Linked DNA regions of Homo sapiens. The protein of the gene in region 1 interacts with the protein of each later gene in a pairwise test. Each region holds a gene or a part of one and is shown in the gene's direction. Other genes may lie near its edges.

Region 1 (3,500 bases):
AATTTTACAGTATATAACATCATATCAACACTTAGGATTCTTCATATATTTTTAGAGCCTTAGGATTAAATTAAATAGAAAATACATTATGGACCAGGTGTGGTGGCTCACATCTGTAATCCCAGCACTTTGGGAGGCCGGGGTGAGCAGATCACTTGAGGTCAGGAGTTTGCGACCAGCCTGGCCAACATAGTAAAACGCCGTCTCTGTGGGCACCTGTAATCCCAGCTACTCGGGAGGCTGAGGCAGGAGAGTAGCTTGAACCTGGGAGGCAGAGGTTGCAGTGAGCCAAGATCATGCCACTGAACTTCAAGCTGAGTGACAGAGCGAGACTCCATCAAAAAAAAAAAAAAAGAAAATACAAATACATTATGGATAATTTTAAGAGTGTGCTCTTTCTAAATTCAGATTATTCATTCTTTTATTGAACAGGTAATTTTTGAGTGTGTAAGGTGTGCTGGGCACTGCAAATACAGCAACAAATAAAACAGATAAAAATTCCTGCCTTCACAGATCTTTCATTAAAGTGGAGAAGAGTCAAGCAAAAGACAAAAAAAAAATTAGTAAAACAAATAGTATGTCAGATACTATGCTAAGTGCTATGGCAATAAGTGCTGTGGAGAAAAGTAAGGCAGGAAAAGGAGCTAGGGACTTCAGGGAGATGATGTGCAGGTTTTTATGATGTGGGCAGAGAGGCTTCAACAAAGAGACAGTGATGTTTGAGCGAAACCAATTTCACATCTGTATCAGCTTAGTTCCTTATGTTTTCAACTGCATAGACAATGACTTATAATGATACAAATGATATCAGGATCTAAAGATTATATATATTTCTTGTGTTTATCTGATATTGATCACAAAGTACTAAGTCTACCTTTGTCTTACAAAAAAAATCTGTAACATAAATTTTGTAAATGCTAAAAAAAATTTCTTATATTGTTTATTTCAGATAGCATATTAGACTTGTAGAGTTAAATCAAGTGTTTTTCTATAAATAATTGTGCTCAAGAGAATGAATATAGATAGGATTTTAGTTTATAATGTGGTTCCTCAAGGTCTCTTATGTGTTACATTATAACTGAGTTACTAGAAAATGATATTAAAATAGCAGCTGGTTGTCTTAGGTTTCTGAAGATTTACATATTTTATATTACATTTTTCATTTTCCATCTACATGCAAAATTACCAGACTTTAAGATTTAGCTGCAGAATACATAGAGCTTTCATATTTGTACTTTTTAAAAAAATGATCAACACCTGTTGATATTTTAAGATAGTAAATTTGGCTTAAATTTTAGTTTTATTAGATAAAAAGTTGTAATTTCCAAAGTAGGCAGCAAGTTGTCCCCTGGTGATAATTTAGCAAGATGTAAGTCATTACTATTTATGAGAACCTGCACTACGTAACATCAGTTTCTTCAGCGTTTATATTTGGGCCCCAAAATATTCATACAAAAGTGGTTGCATGAATCAGAAGTATATTTAAAGCCACCCTTAGTGAAATTCTCTGTTCATAGCATTGATAGAAAAACACTTTTCTCTCCTCATACAGGATTTGGCACAGACTCCAGGTCAAGCGGAAAACCAGCCTTACCAACCCAAAGGTATGTCTCTATTGAAATTAAATTTCATGTGTTTGTTAGCCAAATGGACATCTTTCTTATCCTTTCCTCTGGAACTGCTACATTATATGTAAAATTTTATACATAACCTAAAAATATTTGAGATTCAGATACCAAGTATATTTCAGTAAGTAAAGAAATCGATTTTGTCATGAAGCATGAATGCATCCAAATATGTATAGAAATCTGTGGGAGTAAAAGAAAAGCACAAATATCTTTGTATAATTTATAATCATCTCATGCAAGATATATTAAATGGTAAATAATTACTAAAGAGCCGCTTTGTAATACAGGAGCCAGATCATTAATACTGGCCCACATTTCTCACATAAATGCTGAAATCACATAGGTTTGGTTCCTTATCCATGTTCAGAATAAAGTTATCAGTAATAGTAGCCCACAGTTTCCCCCCAAGTTCAAGTAGTTGAACTTTTGTTTTGAAAATAATTGTTTTACATGGAGAAAAAGTCATCTAATTGGCAAAGTCCAGGGCAAAAGATTTACAAGTTGTTTTTTTTTCCTATAGCATTCCTGCTGGGGTGTTTGCTGTGATCAGAGTTAGAGATGTAGAATTTTTACCACATTTTTACTTTTTTAAATATTCTGCTACCCAGACTGTAATTGAGAAGTACAAGTTGCTCTTTGGGTGTTATGACAGCATCTCTGATGAATGAGAACCTAATCCAGATCTTCTTCAATTCTTCCATTAGTTTGATAGTCTTTAAAGTGGCCATTTAGAGGTACACTCCCAGCAGGACCCTTTAGGGCACCCACCAAGAAACCCTTACTTGGTGGGGGTGGGGGTGTTACCTTGGACTCTTTCACACACACACACACACACACACACACACAAAGTCCTCTACAGTGGACAGGTGTTGAAAAGTGCACAGAAGAAAATATAACTAAAGCTATTACAATATCATGAAAAGAAAAAAAAAAGACGTTTTATTGACTCAGGCACCCAGAAAAGTTAAACAGAAAGCTATGCAACTTTTCAGAAATTCAAGTCCACATCCTTGTCGGTACCATTTGTCTGAGCAAGAATTAGTCTGCAAGTTCAGTTCTGCCCTGACCCAGTCACAGCCCTTTTTTTGTTTTGTTTTGTTTTAACTACTGGAGGATACTTGGGGAGAAATCAGCAAAATGTGTTACTGTTCTTACAAAACAATTTCATTTTGAATAAATTAAAATGCTTAGAAAAATCTAATGTATTTATTTTCAATTGTACAGCAGTTTTGTTTTGTTTTGTTTGCCACTAAGAAGTATAAGCATTTTTTTCTTACTCTTTCTCCTGATCATAAAGATGAGTCACAATTTGTTACATTGTCTGGAAGACACAGTCCCAGAAGCTGCCTCTCTCTGCTTGGTGGACTGAGGCCTGTGGAAGTCTCAACCTTCTTTCTTTTCCAAGGGACCATCTTCCCTGATTTTCATGCTTTCCCCCAGTTACAGTAGGCTTAACCCACAGAACAGCAAAGGGGGAATTGGTCTCTCCTTTGCTCAGAAAGGGTCATCACTATGTTAATGACAGCTCATAATATGTTGCTTGATTTTTTTTTTAATGATGATGCCTAAGTTGCCAGTTTGCACCTTGGGTATTTGTTCCCCTTTTGCCTAGATTAAGTCCTCATAAAATGTCTCAAGATATTTTGAGTTCATTGTCCAGGTAAACCTTTAAATATAAAAGCAGCTCTTGGTAATACCACATTCCTATTGCCCAGGAAGAATTTTGGTTTTCAAATACCTACTGCCTGTCTAGCTGCAATTGTTTACTTTACCTATGTCACTGGCCAGTAAAGCTCCTATCATTCATTCCTACTGCTTTGTTAGATAGGCTGTGCTATATTTGAATAATTTTAAAGATATACTTAAAACTAC
Region 2 (3,500 bases), on another chromosome or scaffold:
ATTGACTGTCATCTACTCTGATATAACGAAGGAAAACATACAAATATTAATTTAAATTTTTGGATTATATAATGTAGTGTTTTTCCTTAGTGGAGATTGTGGTTTAAGCCAGCTTTATCAATTTGGAACATTAACATACGTGAGATAATCAGCACCCTTACTGTAACATAATTTCTATTTTTTTTCTTTTTTTAGATACACAGTCTTGCTCTGTTGTCTAGGCTGGAGTGCAGTGGCATGATCATGGCTCACTGTAGCCTTGCAGCCTCTCGGGCCCAAGTGATCCTCCCACCTCAGCCTCCTGAGTAGATGGGACCACACGTGTGCACCACCACGCCTGGCTAATTTTTTTTTTTTTTTTTTTACTTTTTTACTTTTTGTAGAGAAGAGGTCTCCTCCTGGTCTTAAATTCCTGAGGTCAAGTGATCCTCCTGCTTTGGCCTCTCAGAGTGCTGGGATTATAGGCCTGAGTTACCATGCCTGGTCTATAATTTACGTTCCTAAGAGATGTTTTACATTTTTGTATTATTAAAACAAAGTGGGAAAAGGGCAATAGGTAAAGGACTTGAAGGTTTCAAAACAATAGAAAGTTTTTGTTTTTAGTACAGCTGGAAAAATAATGTTTCACTGGAGCTGACCATTTAAAAAGTTTGCTTCTTTATTTACCCCTTATTTTCTACCCTTAGAGCCTCTTGGTCATTCTTACTACTTTTTGCGTTGATCTTCCAGCTTTGAGTGCAGCACATTTCACAGCCACATCTAGAAAATGGAAGAACTACAGGAATAAATATGAGCAGATTAGTCAGTGAGCTGCTTGAGACAGCTCAGTATAGCATTTTGTTTGGAGTTGCTTTTTTTGGTCTTGCTTAATTTTGTTATAAGCAATAGTTATTTGCATTTTATAAATTTTATTCCTTAATCAAATTATGTATGGCTTGTAATATGAAAACCAGTGCTATGGGAAAAATGCGTGATTAGTGGCAGATACTATGATATGTATTGTTCTAATTAGAAGTGTTGTCACTCCCTGAGGGTGATTTTAAGTCTTTCCCTTATGACAGGTAAACCTAAAGAATGTCATCTTCATTGATGATTAAATTTTATTTCTCTTTTTGTCCCCAGGAATAGCAACAACTATAACTACAGGATTAACTCTGGGTAAGAATTTTTGAGGAAAGATCCCAGCTCTGTGGTCTTCTAATAATTTTAATAAATTGAGTGATCTTTCTACTCTTCTCTCTTCTAATATTTCACAGAGCTGGAGTATAGAAAAAAGTGTGTATCACAGATGGTGACTTATCGGAGAACCTTTCAGTATTTGAGTAGTGAAAAAAAGGAATGACTTCGTAGAGTACTTTTATAATTCAGAAAAGTATTTTAAATGCAGAAATTGTTTTTAATGTGGAAGTTTATTTCATATTACTTTTTTAGTCATTTGACTCCAGTTAGTGGAAAAAACACCAAACTTTAAGCCAGAAATTTTGGAATTAAGCCTCTAAAATACTTGTGAGGCCTTAGGTAATGTTTGGGGCTTTTAGTTATCTATAAAATTGAGGGTATTGAACTAATATCCAAAGACATAATACTTTCTGTAGTGTTAACGCTAAAGGGAATGTGAATAACTAGGGTTTCAGCCAGCTTTCAATCTGGATGGCAGTAAACAATGTGAAAGGAAAGGAAAAGGAAATGAAAGAACATTCAGAAGCTCTTAAATTGAATTTTAAGTTAAAGGAAAGGAAAAGGAAATGAAAGAACATTCAGAAGCTCTTAAATTGAGTTTTAAGTTAAGGATTGGCAGACTTTCTTCATTTGGATGCTACACCTGTTATTAACAGAAAACAACACATCTGTTTATCAGCAAAGTTTTGGACTGGATCAGCTGCAAACACAAGCAAGTGAATCTTCTTGTTTTCTTTTTTGCTTTTTTTTCCCCTATCAGACAGGTTCTTCCTCTGTTGCCCAGGCTGGAGTGCAGTGGCACCATCACAGCTCACTGCAACCTCAAACTCTTGGGCTCAAGCGATCTTCTCTGGGGTTCCCAAGTAGCTAGGACTACAGGCACATACCACAACCCTTGGCTAATTTTTTTTTTTTTTTTTTTTTTTTTTTTTTAGAGACGGAATTTTGCTCTTGTTGCCCAGGCTGGAGTGCAATGGTGCAATCTTGGCTCACCGCAACTTCCGCCTCCTGGGTTCAAGTGATTCTCTTGCCTCAGCTTCCTGAGTAGCTGGGATTACAGGCATGTGCCACCACGCCTGGCTAATTTTGTATTTTTAGTAGAGATGGGGTTTCTCCATGTTGGTCAGGCTGGTCTCGAACTCCCAACCTCAGGTGATCCACCCGCCTTGGCCTTCCGAAGTGCTGGGATTACAGGCGTGAGCCACTGTGCCTGGCCTTTTTTTTTTTTTTTTTTTTTTTGGTAGAGACAAGGTCTCAGTATGTTGCCTAGGCTGGTCATGGACTCCTAGCCTCAAGCCACGTGCCCTCTTTGGCCTCCCAAAGTGCTGGGATTACAGGCTTGAGCCACACCAAGCCTGAGTCTTGTTTTCTGAGGTTGTAACCCCATACGTGATTTCAAAGCACTGCACTCTGGCAGGAACTTCTAGTTGTGATCAGGGCAATCCAGAAGCATAGTTTCTGGCTTCTTTTCTCTCAGTGATTTCAGGTTAAGTCATGCAGGTCATTCATACATTTCTTTATTTAATATTGTTTGAGCAGTTACTACTTCCTAACCATGCAGCCTTGTGTCTACATAATGCCTTGAACATTGAATATTGTGGCACTGCTGGTGAGGATGGTCCTTGATGATGACATTGGGAACTGCTAAGGGTTGGAGCAAGACAGTCAGTCTGTTGTGAGGTGAAAGGGATAGGCAGGTATATTAACATGTTCTTGTATAATCCGATAAATGTCCTAAAAGATGTAGAGGCACCATGAAAGGCAGAGGAAGAAAACAGTATGGTTTACTTTATGGGCAGGAAGCACTTCAGAGAGAGGAGTGGCAAGTGCAAAGGCCCAGTCATAAAAGCGTTCTGGGAAATATGAAGTATTTTGGTTTTGGAGCTTAGAAATCAGAGGTGGAAATGGTGGGCAGAGTTGAGAATTGAGGAGCAGGTTGGGACCAGATAGGAAAGGGAGGTATATGTCGTGCCTTTAGACTCTATTTTAAAGACAATCTAGAGCTAATAGGAACCTTAAATTGGGCAGAATCACCAGGATATTTGTGGGGGTTTTTTGTTTGTGTTTTCTTTTTGTTTTTGTTTTTTATGAGACGGAGTTTTGGTCTTGTTGCACAGGCTGGAGTGCAATGGCGTGATCTCAGCTCACCACAACCTCTGCCTCCCAGGTTCAAACAATTCTCCTGTCTCAGCCTCCCGAGTAGCTGGGATTACAGGCATGCGCCACCACGCCCAGCTAATTTTGTATTTTTAGTAGAAACGGGGTTTCACCATGTTGGCCAGGCTGGTCTCGAACTCCTGACCTAAGGTGATCTGCCCACT
Region 3 (3,959 bases), on another chromosome or scaffold:
GTGGCATTAAAAACATCTATGACAAACTTAGGGGTTTATCATTGAAAACATAAAGTCATGTTAACTTTGTATGGCACTGAAGAATGCCAAGATAACTAAAGAGTAGATTAAGCCAGATGCTGAGTCTTTAGGTTTTCAAAGTAAGAATTATCCTTCAAACGTCTGAAAACATTCCATTTAGTCTAAACTACAGCCAACTCACTGGAAATTAGTACGTGCCAAGGTGGCAATTAAAGCTGAAATTAAATGTTTTGCTTTTAACCTAACGATTGATTAGGGAAGGCATGCAACCTTAAGGAAAAAATCAAAACATCTTTTTCCTTATATCAGAATTGTGTCTTCAAGAACAGTCACCGACTTACAAATTTTCAACTTAGATGATGGGTTTATCGGGGTATTAAAGGCATTTTCGATTCATGATGGGTTTATCGGAACGCAATCCCATGGTAAATCCAGGAGCACCTGTATGTTAAGAGCGGATCACGTCTCTTGTGGTTAGATAGTTAATCCAGTAGTCTCCACCATACTTTTTCTCGTCATATCTCCTTACTGCCGGCCCAGCGGTCGCTTAAACAGGCAAGAGGCTGGCTAAGTGGATAAAACACCAACGCTTAGGACCCTAAGTTAGATAAGCGACTGAATACTGGCGAGGCTGGTACCAGAGCTTGCTCGACAGGACATTCACAGCCGAAAGTTGGAACAAACGTGTCCACGTCCAAAAGGCCCGGATGCTCCAGGCAACTTTCAGCGCGGCTCGAGGCGGCTTCCGGGAGCCGGCGACTCGGAGGCCCGGACGTCGGGCGATCAGCCAGTTCGGACCCCAAGGCCGGAGAAAGCTCGGCCGCGGCGCCCCGAAAAGAGACCCCATTCATTCTCCCCGCTCCATTTTTCCGCCGCGCGGCCCACGAGGCGGCGGCTCCGGAGGGCGCGCAAGGGGCCGGAAGGGCCACCGCTCCTTCCCGCCGCGCGCCCCTCCCCCGCCACCGCCGCGCCGGCCCGCCTGGGCCTCCCCGGTCGCCCTCCCACCGCCTCAACCACCCTGCGCCCCGATCGCGCCCAACCCCCGGCGGGGGGCTCCCACTCACTTGTCTTTCTCGGTGCCGAAGATGGAGGCCAGATACTCCGCCATTTCCCACCCGCCGCCGCCGCTGCCGTCGACACTGCTGCCGACGCCGCCGACCCTGCCGACGCCCGCGGGAGACGTCACCCGGACGCGACGACGCTCTTCCCCGCCCCGACGTGGCAGCGCTACCCAGTCAGGCGAGGTGCTGCCTGCGCGTGGGCGGGACGCATGCGCGTAGGGAGCACGTAGTGCGCGTGGGAGGCTCCGCCTTTTCGGTCCTGGGAACCCGCGCCCCCTGCCGGTGCCCTCCCCGCCCGGCCCTAGCTCTCTCGCCTTCTCGCCCGCCCGGCGCTGGCCCTGCTGGATCCTGCGCGCCGGGGACTGGGGGCTGGCAGTGCAGACCGAACCCGGGGCCGAGGGGCTTCTCCACAGAGCCGCCTGGGGCTCGGTGGGGGGCGCTCAGCTCGACCCCAGCTAAGGGAGCACTAGGAAGTGCGGGCGTCCCCTTCCCTGCACCCTTGCGGGGCGGGAACCGTCGACCTAGAAGAAAAAAAAAGCTGAGGCAAACTTGATATAAGTAGAGAGGTTATTTGGGCCAAGTTTGAAGATTGCAACCCGGGAGCATAGCTTCAAGTTGCCCTGAACATAGGATTTGCAACAGTGACAAGTGGGTTTATAAAGCTTAAGAGGGGGGCAGTTCTTAAATAGCTCACCAAGAATTTACATGAAAATAACAAGCTATTAATTGGCTGTACGTTGTTCTTTATATCATAATTCCAGGAAAGGAAGTTCATGGGTGAAGGCAGCGGGTCCGGAGCAATAGTGCCTTTAAACAATTGCCAGGCATGGGTGGGGACCGCTGAAGCCGCATAGACCTGTCTCTCCGGGCCGGATTAACCTCGCACGCCTCACATAGCTCGGACGCTCTGTGTTGTTTTTCTCTTCTCACACCCCTCTCCGCTTTACCCTCCCTCAGCGCTTGCCAGGTGCGACCTCCCCGGGGCCCTGCACTCTTGCAGTTGCCTGGCCAAGGCCACCCACAGGTGGAGCTGGAAGGCCAGTGACCTGCCTCTGGGATACCCTTTCAGTCTCCTCATGTCACAAGGCTGGAACCATTCCGTTGGAAGGGTTCTATTCCTCTCCTGCGTTTTAACCCCATCAAGCAGCCATTTTCATCTGGTTTCCCACATTCATCAACTCACCTGCGATTTACCTAATTTCCAACGCAACTATCAACTCTGATTAGGTAGAAGTCAGAGAGACAGGGCCTATTTTACTTACCTCCTCCACAAGATGAGCCCCAGACTGTGGGGCAGGACCATGGGATCCTCTTAGCTCGGCTAGAGCTGAATGCTGAGCTCTAGTGTTTGGGCGGATTTGCGTGTTAGAATTGCATTTCTCTTGGCAACAGAGCATCTTCCTACCTGGGAAAGATGAGCAAACTGGAAACCTGTATTAGAAACAGTAGGGCCTCAGAGGTTTAAACCAAAAAGTATCTTGAGACAGGGCTCAATCAATTTAGAAGTTTATTTTGCCAAGGTTAAGGACAATGCCTGGGAGGAAAAAAAACACGGTATCACAGAAACAGTCTGTGGTCTGTGCCTTTCTCCAAAGATGACTTTGAGGGCTTCAGTATTTAAAGGGGAAAAGTGGGCTGGAGGGGAAAGCGGAACAGTGTGGTAATCCACACGTTGCAAGAGAAAAGAAGCAGGTTGGGAACAGTCGACTGTGTACAGCTCACTCCTCAGCAAATCAGCACTTTACATAAGAGAAGCGGATGTTGAACCTTCTATCTGTAGCCGTCTGCTTAGGAACGAAAGGAAAGGCAGCTGCTTACATGACTCAGCTTTCAGCTCATTCTTTTCCTTTTGACAGAGTGAACTGGGGTCCTGACTTTTGTGTTCCTTTCGCAGAGGTGAGGCCAGAGAAGTGACAAGACAGATGCCAGTCCAGCAGGTGGGCATGTCCAGAAAGTGCAGCCTCAGGACACGGTCTGGGAACAAAGACTGCTGGAGAGTTGGAAGCTGGCAAGAGGCTCTCAGCTGTGAAGTACCTGGGGTGGGGGAGAAGTGGTCGGAGAAAGCAGAGGTAAGGTCTGTGCGTGGGAACTGAACTGAAATCCACAGCTCTATTACAAGGAATTAATCTGGTTACTAGAACCAGGGTAGATGATCAGACCAGGCAGGGCCACCAGTACCATCCACCCATTTTTCCTGAGAAAAGAAAAATAGGGTAGTCTGAGCTCTGTGAGGTGTGCAGAATGATCAGGCCCAGAGAGGCAGGAGTGTGGGACTTCATTCAGCGCCTCTTCCACCATAGAAGCAACTGTCCAGGGCAATTGTTTGATGGAATTTTTGCTCCTGACAGGCTGCCTCACCCATTATCTTCTTGTTCACATGGAATTAGTGATGCTAAGAACGATGCATAGCCAATCAGCACCTTCTGTTATTTTAATGCAAATTCTTGCTAACAACTTAGGGACTGCCTCTTCCTTTTCCTTAAAACCCCACTGTGACTGCTGCTAATGGGAACATATGTTCAGGGCAACCTAGGGGCATGTGCCCAGGGAGCCATCCTCAAGCTTTGGGCTCAAATAAACTCTATACTTAATCATATTTCCTGAATTTCATTATTTGAGGTTGACATTTTGGCAACCCAGATAGGACCTGAAGCAGGCCTTCAGGGATTGCCACTAAGTAGTGGCATCAATAGTTGGAGCCTTGGTACCAGCACAAACGACTGTTGTTTACTCGACCTCACTGGGGCTGGCAGGGGTCTCTGGTAAGGCCAGTCTTGGGATCTGAATCCTCCCAGCTTAGTTGAAGATTGAGACTTACACACTAATAATTTGATAGGGTTAGAACTGAAGCTCCACTGAAAGGTAGGAGTTTCCATT
Region 4 (3,500 bases), on another chromosome or scaffold:
CGGGGTTTCACCATGTTGGCCGGGATGGTCTCTCGATCTCCTGACCTCGTGATCTGCCTGCCTTGGCCTCCCAAAGTGCTGGGATTACAGGCATGAGCCACCGTGCCCAGCCTATTATTGAATTTTTTAAAAATAGCCTAGTGTGTGACTAGTTGAAGGGTACAATATTATTCAGCTGTATTATGCATATTATATACTGATGCAATCACTATACAGTCTAAGTAAAATAAACAGCAAAGGGCTAGAGTGAGGAATGAAATCTAATCTGTTTCCATTGAGCTAGTAGTAAGGGAGACTTGAAAGTTGTACAAGTAGACCTAGGGGAGTCTTTCTTGAAAACAAGGCATAATAATGCCTCCTTTATCTGCCTTTACTAGGAAAGATGGGTAACCAGAGTAGTGAATTTTGTAAAATAATGAAAACTTATGCCTTTAAGCCCCTAATTTCTTTTTATGTTTTACTCTTGGGAAAACCAAATGTAATTTAAAAAAATGGCTCAGAGCCATTGTTATTTTACTCAGCATTACAGGGACTTGAGAATGTAGAGGCCCATTTGTCTCCATTACATGGCTGCAGAATGCTTTTATTGTTTCTTTCTGATTTTATTTTTTGCTTCTTTTGGTTTCCTCTGCTGTTTATCAAATCTTTCTGCTTTATGTCTATCTGCTGGTTTATAATTTGCTGCCTAAATTTATGTGTAATATAAAACTTTTCCCCTACTCAGTTCTTCCGGCAAGTCGGATCTTGTGCCAACTTATTTGTTCTTCTAGCTTAATACCAAGCCTCATTTCCACTGTTGCAATCCCACTCCCCAATGCTGGGACCTCCTCTCATTGCCTGCTTCTTAAAACTCCCTAATTCTCTGTCCTGCCCCGCTATGCCTTATGTTGCTTTCCCACTCCTGATTGAGGTACATTACTGAGAAAAAAATTCTTGCTTTTGGTATTTTGATAAAGGTACTCTACGGAAGAACTGGAAAATAAAATAGGATGGGATTGAGAGGGAAGATCTCCTCTATAATTCAAAGGAAATTCCCAGTTTTCCTTTGAAAAACTCTTTTATCAGAAGCAGCAGATACTGTTGTGCTTCAGTGTGAGGATGGCAGCGCAGTGCCCCTGTGATACTGGAGAGGGCATGCTTGATGCGCACAAAGAAAGAGAGATGGGGAGATAACTTGGGTTCAGTGGGTATCTCATGCTCTGACAGAGTGCTTCAGGAAATGGTTAGACAGTAACGGCACACTGAGTAGAAGAAAATTATTTTCATGGATTTAAACATTTGTCCTCCTTGAAGAATTTGGGCTTGGCCTGATGGATCTTCCCCAGAAAGCAATTAGACATTGTTTTTCCTGCTCTCATTCACTTTCCTAGGAAGGAAATGGTATGCTCTTCTGGAGAGAAGCCCCAGGGCCCAGTACCAGAAAGCAGCCAGAGCCACTAGCCATTACTTGGACCTTTTGGGAAGCATTTGAAAATGTACTATTTAGGGTTATTAGCCTGAGGTTCTTGGACCCCTAAAGCATTAGTTCTTAAACTTTTTGGTCTCTATACCCCTTTGTCTTTGAGGATACCAGAGAGCATTTGTTTATGTGGATCATAGCTATCAATATTTACCATTTAGAAAGCAAAACTGAGAAAACTTAAAATATTAGCCTGGTTAAGCACAATCCCACTAGCTGTCAGAGTGATAGAGTCATGTTTCCTGTAGCCTCTGGAAACTTCTACTGTACACTTGAGAGAGAATAAGAGTGAAAAAGTAATTAACGTCTTAGTATTTCTATAAAAATATCTTTGTAGATCCCCCAAACATGTTTTAGGAAAACCCAGGGATCCTCAGACCATAGTGTGAGAACTGTTGCGCTTAGGGGTTTATGAATAGAATTCAGGAGATTTGAGATCTTGGATAGGGAATAATTGTATCTCTATTTAAAGGAATTATTTCCTTCCATTAGCAATGTAGGCACAATCCATGGCAATATCAGGAGTGCTTCTGGCTTTGATAACCAATAGAACTCACAGATATGTTCATGGTTAAGTTATTGCAGATATCTTAATATTTTGAAATTGTGATAGTTATTAGACCTGACATTTTTTAGGGACAGTTTGACAGCCAGAGATAGGAAGAGATTCTGAAGGGACATAGCCCTGACCTTTGGGTTGCATCCTTCACTTTTATTCTTTTTCGATAGTCTATGAAATGAAAATCCTTTGAAAATGTTATGATGGTATAATCAAAGAGAACATTACATTAGGAATCAGATGACTTTAGTTCTAGCTCTGCCTCTAATTAGCTGTGGGATCTTGGGAGAAATTTTCAGCCCTTGTATCTGAGTGTACATGTTAACTCCTGCAGCACTTCTCCAGCTCAAGTAATCTATATAATAATTGGAAATTTTGGAATGTATTCATTGTAATTTATTAAACACCTACTACATGTCAAACATTATACTAGGCACTGGGGATTTAACAGAGAGCAGTACATGGTCCCTGCCCTCAAGGACTCTACAGTTTGGATTTTAACTAGCAAATAAGGATGTATGTAGAACCCACTTTCCAGAGATAATTGTTAGAAATTCCTGGGGAAAGTGCACCTGCGATATTTGAGCAAAGGCCTTTCCTGTTCCATATAGATTGTCATTCACATTCACATGTGTCAGTAGGGTCACTCTTGATGTTGGTTGGCACCTAGAAAAGAGTAGCCCCTGATTATCTTTCCATAATGAGCCCTCATTCAATTAACCAAACTTTATTGAGGGCCTCAAGTGTGTGGAGAACTGTGCTAGACTCTGGATTGCAGGTTCCTTTCCCTGAAGACAGTCATGGGGAAAAAAGATGCAATGAATTACAGTGTGATAAGGGCTGTAACAGAGTGTGTGTAATGTGTTATGGATGTATAGAAGAAGGCACATGTGAGCCAGTCAGATGTTGGCAGTTGTAGGAGGTTAGGGAATGCTTCATGGAATAAATGGCATAAATAACTGGGCCTTGAGGGCTGAGTGCAGTTTGCAAGGTGAAGAAATGAGAGAATACCAATGTGATTATGGTTTGGGATCTTGTCTGGTGCATCAGGCCATTTCAAACTTTGAATGAATGTCTGAGGTGAGGAGACAGTGTTTTTTGAATATACAGATATGTTGAAAATGTTAATGATGAGTGGATAGTGTTTTTGTTTTGCTTTTGAGTGTAACAACTCATGTGTAACTTTTTCTTCAATATTTGTGTGTGTGTATTTTAGAAAGAACACCCAGGTTAATGCCTGATAAAGAAAGCATGTATTACCCACGGGTACAACATTACCGAGAGCTGCTTGACTCCTTGCCAATGGATGCCTATACACATGGCTGCATTTTACATCCTGAGTTAACTGTGGACTCCATGATCCCGGCTTATGCAACTACAAGGATTCGTAGTATGTAAACATTTTAAAGACCTGGAATTCTGTCTGACACTTTCTTTTAATTCATTTTGAGACCTAGCATGTCTCATGGTCACTAAAAGAAG
Region 5 (3,500 bases), on another chromosome or scaffold:
GTGGTGTGCGAACACTCCCCATTCGATGGCATCGTCCTGGTGCAGTGCACTGAGCATCTGCTCAAGCACGTGTGAGTCTGGATCCCAGGGCTGCCATGCTGGGCCCAAAAAAATGTGGGTGGTCGCTGGGGGCTGTGTCAGTCTGGAAAGCGTCTTAACAAAAGATGAATTTGAAAAAAATGTGTACTATACACACACACACACACACACACACACACACACGATGAATTTGAAACCCAGCTTTGTATGCGACATCATGTGCTTCACGGGCCATGGATAGGAGGCAGCAGATTTACGGCAGTCAGGGAGAAGCATGGCAAGGAATTCTCAGGAACCTCTGCCTTGAGAGAGGGGAAGCCTACATCGATACCTATTGCTTATCCTGAGTCAGGGCCAGGCCCACGGCTGCCCCAGCACAGGGGGAGTTCTCTGAGTCTCACTGCTTCCAAATCCCAAGGCTGGGTCCCTCCTTAGCTCCCCAGCAGGGTTCCTCTGTGCCCTAAACACATGGTATTCCTTCCTCTATTCCCAATTTTACCCATTCTCTCCTAGAATCTTCTCCCTGCATCCAAGTCTTCAATTTCTTCCATGAAACTCAGGGTTACTGAAACCTAAACCAAGCCTAGTAGGCACAAACCTTGTAGAAGAGAACAACACAGCTTGCTCTTAAATTTCTCTCCAAGTCTTCTGTAAGGGTGTAACATGGTCTAATAGGAAAACAATGAAAAGAAATAATGGGTTTTGGAGTCAGGCGGAACTGGATGGAGCCCTGGCCCTGCCACTTAATGATTTTGGTGGCCTCTCTGAGCCTCAGTTTATTCATCTGCACGGTGGTTCAGGGGCAGCTCGTACCCCCTGAAACTCCATGGCCGCAAACACTGACAGCTAAGATGATTGCACAGAGCAAAGAAGAGATGCCTCCCACAGCTGTCTGGCCGCAGAGCCTCAGGAGGTTGCCTCTGTGCCCGCAGGACGCAGAGCAGCAGGAAGCTGATCCGAGCAGACTCCGTCAGCGAGCTCCCCGCCCCCCGGAGGCTGCGGTGGAAATGCTCCCCGGAAATTCAAGGCCACTTAGCCTCCTCGGCAGAAAAACTTCAACGGTAAGGATAACCGAAGTCTCCTTTGAGGGGTCCCCTAGGGACCACCCCGCCCTTGCCTACTAGCTCCCAAGGCTCCCTGGAAGTTTCCAAAGACCCCAGCTCCTCTGCCTCTCCTTGGGCTCCACCTCGTCCCCATCCCTCATGTAGTCAAATTAAAGGAGAGATACAACTCTGGGGAAATAACCTTGCTGAAGTATCCATCATTTCTCTAAAATGCAAACGCAGGGCTATTTTTTTTTTTTTTTTTTTTTTTTTTTTCAGTTTCACCTGACTGAGCAGAGTCAAGGCCGGGAAATCATCCCCTGCTTTAGGGGGAGTAATAAACAACTGGTTTGAATAGGTCATTTGAATTCAAGCTATTTAAATTTGCTTGAATGTACAGTGCAACTTGACAAAGGGGCCTTTTTCCCCAAGGGGAGGGGGCCGTTCAGGCCCTAACGGGACCCAGGCAGGAGGGCCTGGGGCAGCAGCAAGCAGTGGTGGCAGCCACATCCTGGCAACCACGTCTGCACTGTAGCTGTTGATTCTCCCATTCAGTAAGCAAGCACGAATGCATTCATTCACTGGTTTGCTCATTCATTCATCAAACATGTGCAGAGCTCTGGTGTGCACCCGGCCCGTGGTAAGGCTCTGAGAACACAGAAAGTTAAGTACCATGGGACCTGCACTCCATATTTGAGTGGAATAAGTAGACTCCCAGGCCAAAACATGTGATACAGTAAGATTAATGCCAAAAGCAGAAACAGCCATGCTGACCTGAACCCACAAAAATATAGAAGCTGAACTCTGTCAGGACTGTGAGGGAGGGCCTTGTAGAGACGGGCCTTGAAGGATGGATAGGAGTTCATGGTGCAAGCAGATGGGGAAGAGGCAGAAAGGCAGCTTCTTCAAGCTTGTACAAGTTCATAATGATGAAGGCTGGTTTGGAGACCAGCAAGTGAGAGAATGGCCAGAGTGGGGCCACAAAAAGGAAGTTGGGCCACACTGTGATGAGTGTCACTGTCCTGTTATGGGCCTAGAGCCTGCCCTGCCACTGGAGGGTTCTGTGCAGGGGGTATGGGGACGCCCCTGAGGAGGCTGTGGGAAGGGCACATGTGAGCAGGACAGAGTGTGGCCAGGCTGGGAAGCTGAAGAGCGGGAAGGACCCATCCACTGGGAGCTGCTGGAGAGGTTGCCTGGCTTCAGTGGGCATGGAGGGGCCTCAGGTGTTCTATAAAGTGGTGCTCACATCTCAGCTTTGCAGGGTTGTTCAGGAGCTAAGTCAGGGGCCAAGGCAGTGAGCTGGTGGGCTGCTGAGTCCTCAGTGGGTAAAGGAGTCCACTCACTTCCAGGGACCTGAGCAGACCCCACATTCCCCAAGGCCCCCAGCTCCACCCTCCAGAGGCTGAGGAGAGCCAGGAAAGGCCCATGGATGGGGAAGAAGGAGGCTTCTTCCTGGGGGTCCTGAGGGGCCCATACAAGTGGGTGAGGCCCGAGTGGGCACAGCTTGGGGGAGAGATTTCCAGGTGGCTGTGGTGATAGTGAGCTCAGTCTGTCCCAGACGTCTGTCAACAGGTAGGTCTAAGGAGCGAGTACTCATGGGAACTGGGTCTCCTCCAAGTCCCCCTGTGTTCCTAGCACCTGGCCCCACCGAGAGCTGAGCTGCTGTGAGCAGGAGGAATACTTCAAGGAGAGGCAGGCAGGGAGCATGGAGTCCCGACAGAAGGTGTGCGTGTGGGCTCGGGGTTCCCACTCAGGCTATGCGCTCTCCAGTGGGGAGGCACATAGACCTTGCCAGACACTGCTCCAGTGGGCAGTCAGCTCAGACCCCAGACTCCTGATGGAGGAGGAGATTGTTCAATATGAGGGTCAGCCAGTGCTCCAGAGTCTCAGTGCAGACTTGGAAAATGTTCCTGTTACTCCGACAGTGAATTACAAAATCCCGGGCATGTCACCTGTGTCACAGTTAATCCCTGACTCACTAACACAGCCAGGCCCACCTCCCCACCCACTCTCCAGAGCAGGGCCGACACCCCACTCAGCTGAGCTCACCTTGGGTCATAGTAGTCCTGGCCTGGTTTGTCTTCTGACACTTTCATAGGTCAAGGCATGTCTCTGACACCTCAGTGCACTCCTGAAGGGCAGGGACTACGTCCGCACCTTCCAGAACGCTAGGACACAGACCAGGCTCTAGAAGCCCGGGGAAACCCCAGATGCATGCATACTGTTTTGCATGCAATAAAAACATCTTTTCTTTTTCTTCCTCAGAATAGTAAAGAACCTTGACTTCATTGTCTATAAGTTTGACAACTATGGGAAAACATTCATTAAGAAGCAGAAATGCAGCCCTGATGCCTTCATCCAGGTGGCCCTCCAGCTGGCCTTCTACAGGTGAGTGAAGGTGGAGTGAGTCTGTACCCT
Region 6 (3,500 bases), on another chromosome or scaffold:
TAAGTAGGTGAATAACATCATGCAATTGTGTTATAGAACAAACATACTAATGAAAATGTGAAGAGGACAAGACTAGAGGATATCCAGTGAAAGGAATTGGAATAGTTTGCAGAGATACAATGAAGGCCTCAGCTAAGGTTGTTACTGAAAATGGAGAGGAAGGAGTACTTTTGGGAGATATTTTTTTAAGTAGAATTGACAAGACTTGTGGTAATAGGAGGAATAAAAAATGAGTCCTAGATTTCTTGGATGTCTGGATGGATCCTGTAGTAATTAAGAAAGGTAAGAAACAAAGCAGAAGAACAGGTTTTGTGTACAAAACTATCTTCAGTTTTGTACATTTTTAGCACATAAACACACATAAAGAACCCAGCTGGAGATGTGTTTACTCTGTCACTTGGGAAGGTGAGAGGGAGGAGATAAAATTTGTGAGTCATTGAGTCATTGGTGTATTGGAATATTAGAATATTCTTCGTACTTGAGGATTCTAAGGAAAGCAGGAAGGCAGAAGAACCTAATGCCTATTACATAATAGGTATTCAATAAATATTTGTTGTCTGAATAAAAGAACTCTAGGGAGCACACGTATTTCAAGTATGGGTGAAGGAAGACAAGCAAGTGCAAGAGAGGAAGACTGATAGGGAGAGAACCAGGAGGGGAGAATGGTATGCTGTGAACTGATCAAAGTCAAAGACTAATGACTAAGCTAATAACAAACAATTGTCTGCCATTCCTCCTTGTCGTAAGCTTTCTCTGCCATGCTTAGTTTAGTTATTGTACCATTCTTAGTTACGTACAGAATTCTGTTTTCAATATGCAGTTTTTTTTTTTTTTGAGACAGTCTCTCTCTGTCACCCAGGCTGGAGTACAGTGGTGTGATCTTGGCTCACTGCAACCTCCCCCTCCCAGGGTGAAGCTATTCTCATGCCTCGGCCTCCCCAGTAGCTGGAATTATAGGTGTGTACCACTGCACCTGGCTAATTTTTTTTTCCATTTTTAATAGAGTCGGTTTCACCATGTTGGCCAGGCTGTTCTTAAACTCCTGACCTCAAGTGATCGTCCCGCCTCGGCCTCCCAAAGTGCTGGGATTACAGGCATGAGCCACCACGCCTGGGCTCAATGTGCATTTTGTAAATTATGTGGTTGGAAGTTAAACAGGAAAATTTGCTTAACCAGTATGTTGAAGGATTTCTAAAAGATCAGAAAACAGGAACATTAATGCTCAATTGCTTGTGATACTCAATTCCTTGGGTAGGCTCTTCTCCACAGCTCCTACTGAAGATAATACAAAATTAAGTAAATAATAGCAGATTATTTACTTAATTATTTAAATCTTTTCATTCAAAGGTGAAGTATGAAGTAACAGAAGATGTGTACACATCCAGAAAGAAACAACACCAGACCATGATGCATTATTTTTGTGCATTAAATACTCTTCAGTACAAGAAGAAAATAGCATTGTTAGAACCTCTACTTGGGTACATGCAAGCTCAGGTAAATACTGTACTGTATTTGGATTATAACTGTCCTAAAAGTTTTATATTAAGCTTGATATTTACATTAAGTATAAGGGTATTATAAACTATTTTCAACATCCTTGTTTATGTCTGTGTTTTAAGAAGTTATTTTTAAAATGTCATCAGACTATTATTTTAAGGAAGTTAGGAAGAATGGTTTTCCTTGCAAATGAAGATTTCAAATATTTTAGGTAAATGAAACCACTTGTTCACCATAGCTGGGGACTGAGAGAACTAAATGAATTTCAGAGTTACACCTATTGCTAGAGCTTCAACTAAACACTTGCTTCATAATAGATCTGAAAAAGAATAAACAAGTTTGAGTTTATCCCATATTCCTTGCATACTTCCTGAGTTAAAAATAATAGATGAACTCCAACGTGCCCAAAGAGTACATCAGGAAGGGGGCTAGAAAATTTGGGTAGTATAAGACAAAGTGTCAGTCTCCTAAAAATCAAGAGTTTAAAGAAAATTGAGGGCAGGCACGGTGCCTTATGCCTATAATCGAGCACTTTGGTAGGCCGAGGTAGGAGGATCATTTGAGTCCAGGAGTTTGAGACTAGCCTCAGCAACGTAGGGAGACCCCATCTCTACAAAAAATGAAAAAATTAGCTGGGCTTGGTAGCATGCCTCGGTGATCCCAGCAACTTGGGAGGCTGAAATGGAAGGATCCCTTGAGCCTAGGAGGCTGAGGCTGCAGTGAGGTTTTATTGTGCAGTCTGGATGACAGACGAGACCCTGTCTCAAAAAAAAAAAAAAAAATTGAATCTATTTAGGTAAAAGAGTACTTTACTGATTATTCCTCAGATAGAAAACTTATCTTTGTAGTAAACATGAAATACTTTATATAATTTATTGGAAATACTTTAAAATTTATTTTCCAATTTTAAAAGATTGTTAACCATATGTATATATTACTTGTTCCAATTCAAAAAATATAAAAGGATATGCAGTGGAATTTAAGTCTAACTTCCTTAATGGCTCCCTGTGCAGTAGAAGTCACAAACTACAATGTATTTTTACACAAATGGGAATATTCCTTTGTTTTTTACTTAACCATGTGTCTTAGAGATTGTTTATATGATTTACTTTAAGTATTGCTTAATCTATTTTTGTATTGTTCAATTCCCCCCACTCCCCACTCTCCAGATAAGTTTCTTTAAGATGGGTTCTGAAAATCTTAATGAACAACTGGAAGAATTTTTAGCTAATATTGGAACAAGCGTTCAGAAGTAAGTATTTTTTTCCTTAAAATTGAAAATGAAATGATGTGAATGATAACAGCTCAATGACATAATGTAAAGATATTTATCATTTACTTTCCTGAGGGAATATTTTCCCTGCCATGAGAGTTTCTTATGTGGTTCATGGTTACTTCTTGTTTTTTTTTAACCTCTTTTTTCCACAGATTGTGAACTTTGAATTTCATAATAGTGATAATTTTATTGATTCTACACTCAGTTTTATGTCTGAATATAACAGACACATAATAGTAACTCCCCATAAGTGAAATTATCTTTAAACTTGAAATTGTGGGAGTTTGATGGGAGATTACTAAATATTGTTTCCAAGCCATGAAAGCTTAGAGAGAAAGCAGTTCTTATCAGGTTCAAAATGCCGAGCAGTGTATGTGGTCAGTCCACGGTATGGAGAGAGATGAAAGTGATTGTTGTTTTAAAGGCACAGGGCAGAACAGTTTGAAAATTACGCCAAAATCAGGCATTCGGGGGGCTTCATTTGTTTTTTGAATTTAGTATTGTTTCCAAAATATCTAAGTTTCAAATAAACTGTAAACCTGTTTTAAAATATATTCGTGTTGTTTTAACCACCCATGCCGCTCTTCCTCTCTTTAAGAAAACATACCCGAAACAAATATGCAGGTAAACATGATTGGTAAGGAGTTCTTTATTGGTTGTGATTTGTAGCAAATAATCTGTTCTGTGTCAGTGTTCGCAGGGAAATGGACAGTGATATAGAGACCAT

What was found.
Region 2: the proteins of SCAPER (region 1) and NUP58 interact in binary tests that used the Homo sapiens proteins (3 or more experiments, as listed by UniProt).
Region 3: the proteins of SCAPER (region 1) and alpha-crystallin A2 chain interact in binary tests that used the Homo sapiens proteins (3 or more experiments, as listed by UniProt).
Region 4: the proteins of SCAPER (region 1) and GDAP1 interact in binary tests that used the Homo sapiens proteins (3 or more experiments, as listed by UniProt).
Region 5: the proteins of SCAPER (region 1) and CHAT interact in binary tests that used the Homo sapiens proteins (3 or more experiments, as listed by UniProt).
Region 6: the proteins of SCAPER (region 1) and APPL1 interact in a two-hybrid assay, tested with the Homo sapiens proteins (one large-scale study listed by BioGRID and IntAct).

Annotation. Positions count from the first base shown.
Region 1 is NC_000015.10:76,349,341-76,352,840, reverse strand, and holds part of SCAPER (S phase cyclin A-associated protein in the endoplasmic reticulum), read left to right. Parts: intron 1-1,552; coding exon 1,553-1,604; intron 1,605-3,500. UniProt on the Homo sapiens protein: CCNA2/CDK2 regulatory protein that transiently maintains CCNA2 in the cytoplasm.
Region 2 is NC_000013.11:25,308,125-25,311,624, forward strand, and holds part of NUP58 (nucleoporin p58/p45), read left to right. Parts: intron 1-1,122; coding exon 1,123-1,158; intron 1,159-3,500. UniProt on the Homo sapiens protein: Component of the nuclear pore complex, a complex required for the trafficking across the nuclear membrane.
Region 3 is NC_000021.9:6,498,044-6,502,002, forward strand, and holds the start of alpha-crystallin A2 chain, read left to right. Parts: upstream 1-1,159; 5' UTR 1,160-1,730; intron 1,731-2,976; 5' UTR 2,977-3,151; intron 3,152-3,959. Other genes in the region: splicing factor U2AF 35 kDa subunit-like protein, read right to left, coding at 1,086-1,129. UniProt on the Homo sapiens protein: Contributes to the transparency and refractive index of the lens. In its oxidized form (absence of intramolecular disulfide bond), acts as a chaperone, preventing aggregation of various proteins under a wide range of stress conditions.
Region 4 is NC_000008.11:74,356,903-74,360,402, forward strand, and holds part of GDAP1 (ganglioside-induced differentiation-associated protein 1), read left to right. Parts: intron 1-3,234; coding exon 3,235-3,408; intron 3,409-3,500. UniProt on the Homo sapiens protein: Regulates the mitochondrial network by promoting mitochondrial fission.
Region 5 is NC_000010.11:49,648,537-49,652,036, forward strand, and holds part of CHAT (choline O-acetyltransferase), read left to right. Parts: coding exon 1-71; intron 72-971; coding exon 972-1,100; intron 1,101-3,347; coding exon 3,348-3,470; intron 3,471-3,500. UniProt on the Homo sapiens protein: Catalyzes the reversible synthesis of acetylcholine (ACh) from acetyl CoA and choline at cholinergic synapses.
Region 6 is NC_000003.12:57,244,729-57,248,228, forward strand, and holds part of APPL1 (DCC-interacting protein 13-alpha), read left to right. Parts: intron 1-1,347; coding exon 1,348-1,494; intron 1,495-2,666; coding exon 2,667-2,749; intron 2,750-3,464; coding exon 3,465-3,500. UniProt on the Homo sapiens protein: Multifunctional adapter protein that binds to various membrane receptors, nuclear factors and signaling proteins to regulate many processes, such as cell proliferation, immune response, endosomal trafficking and cell metabolism.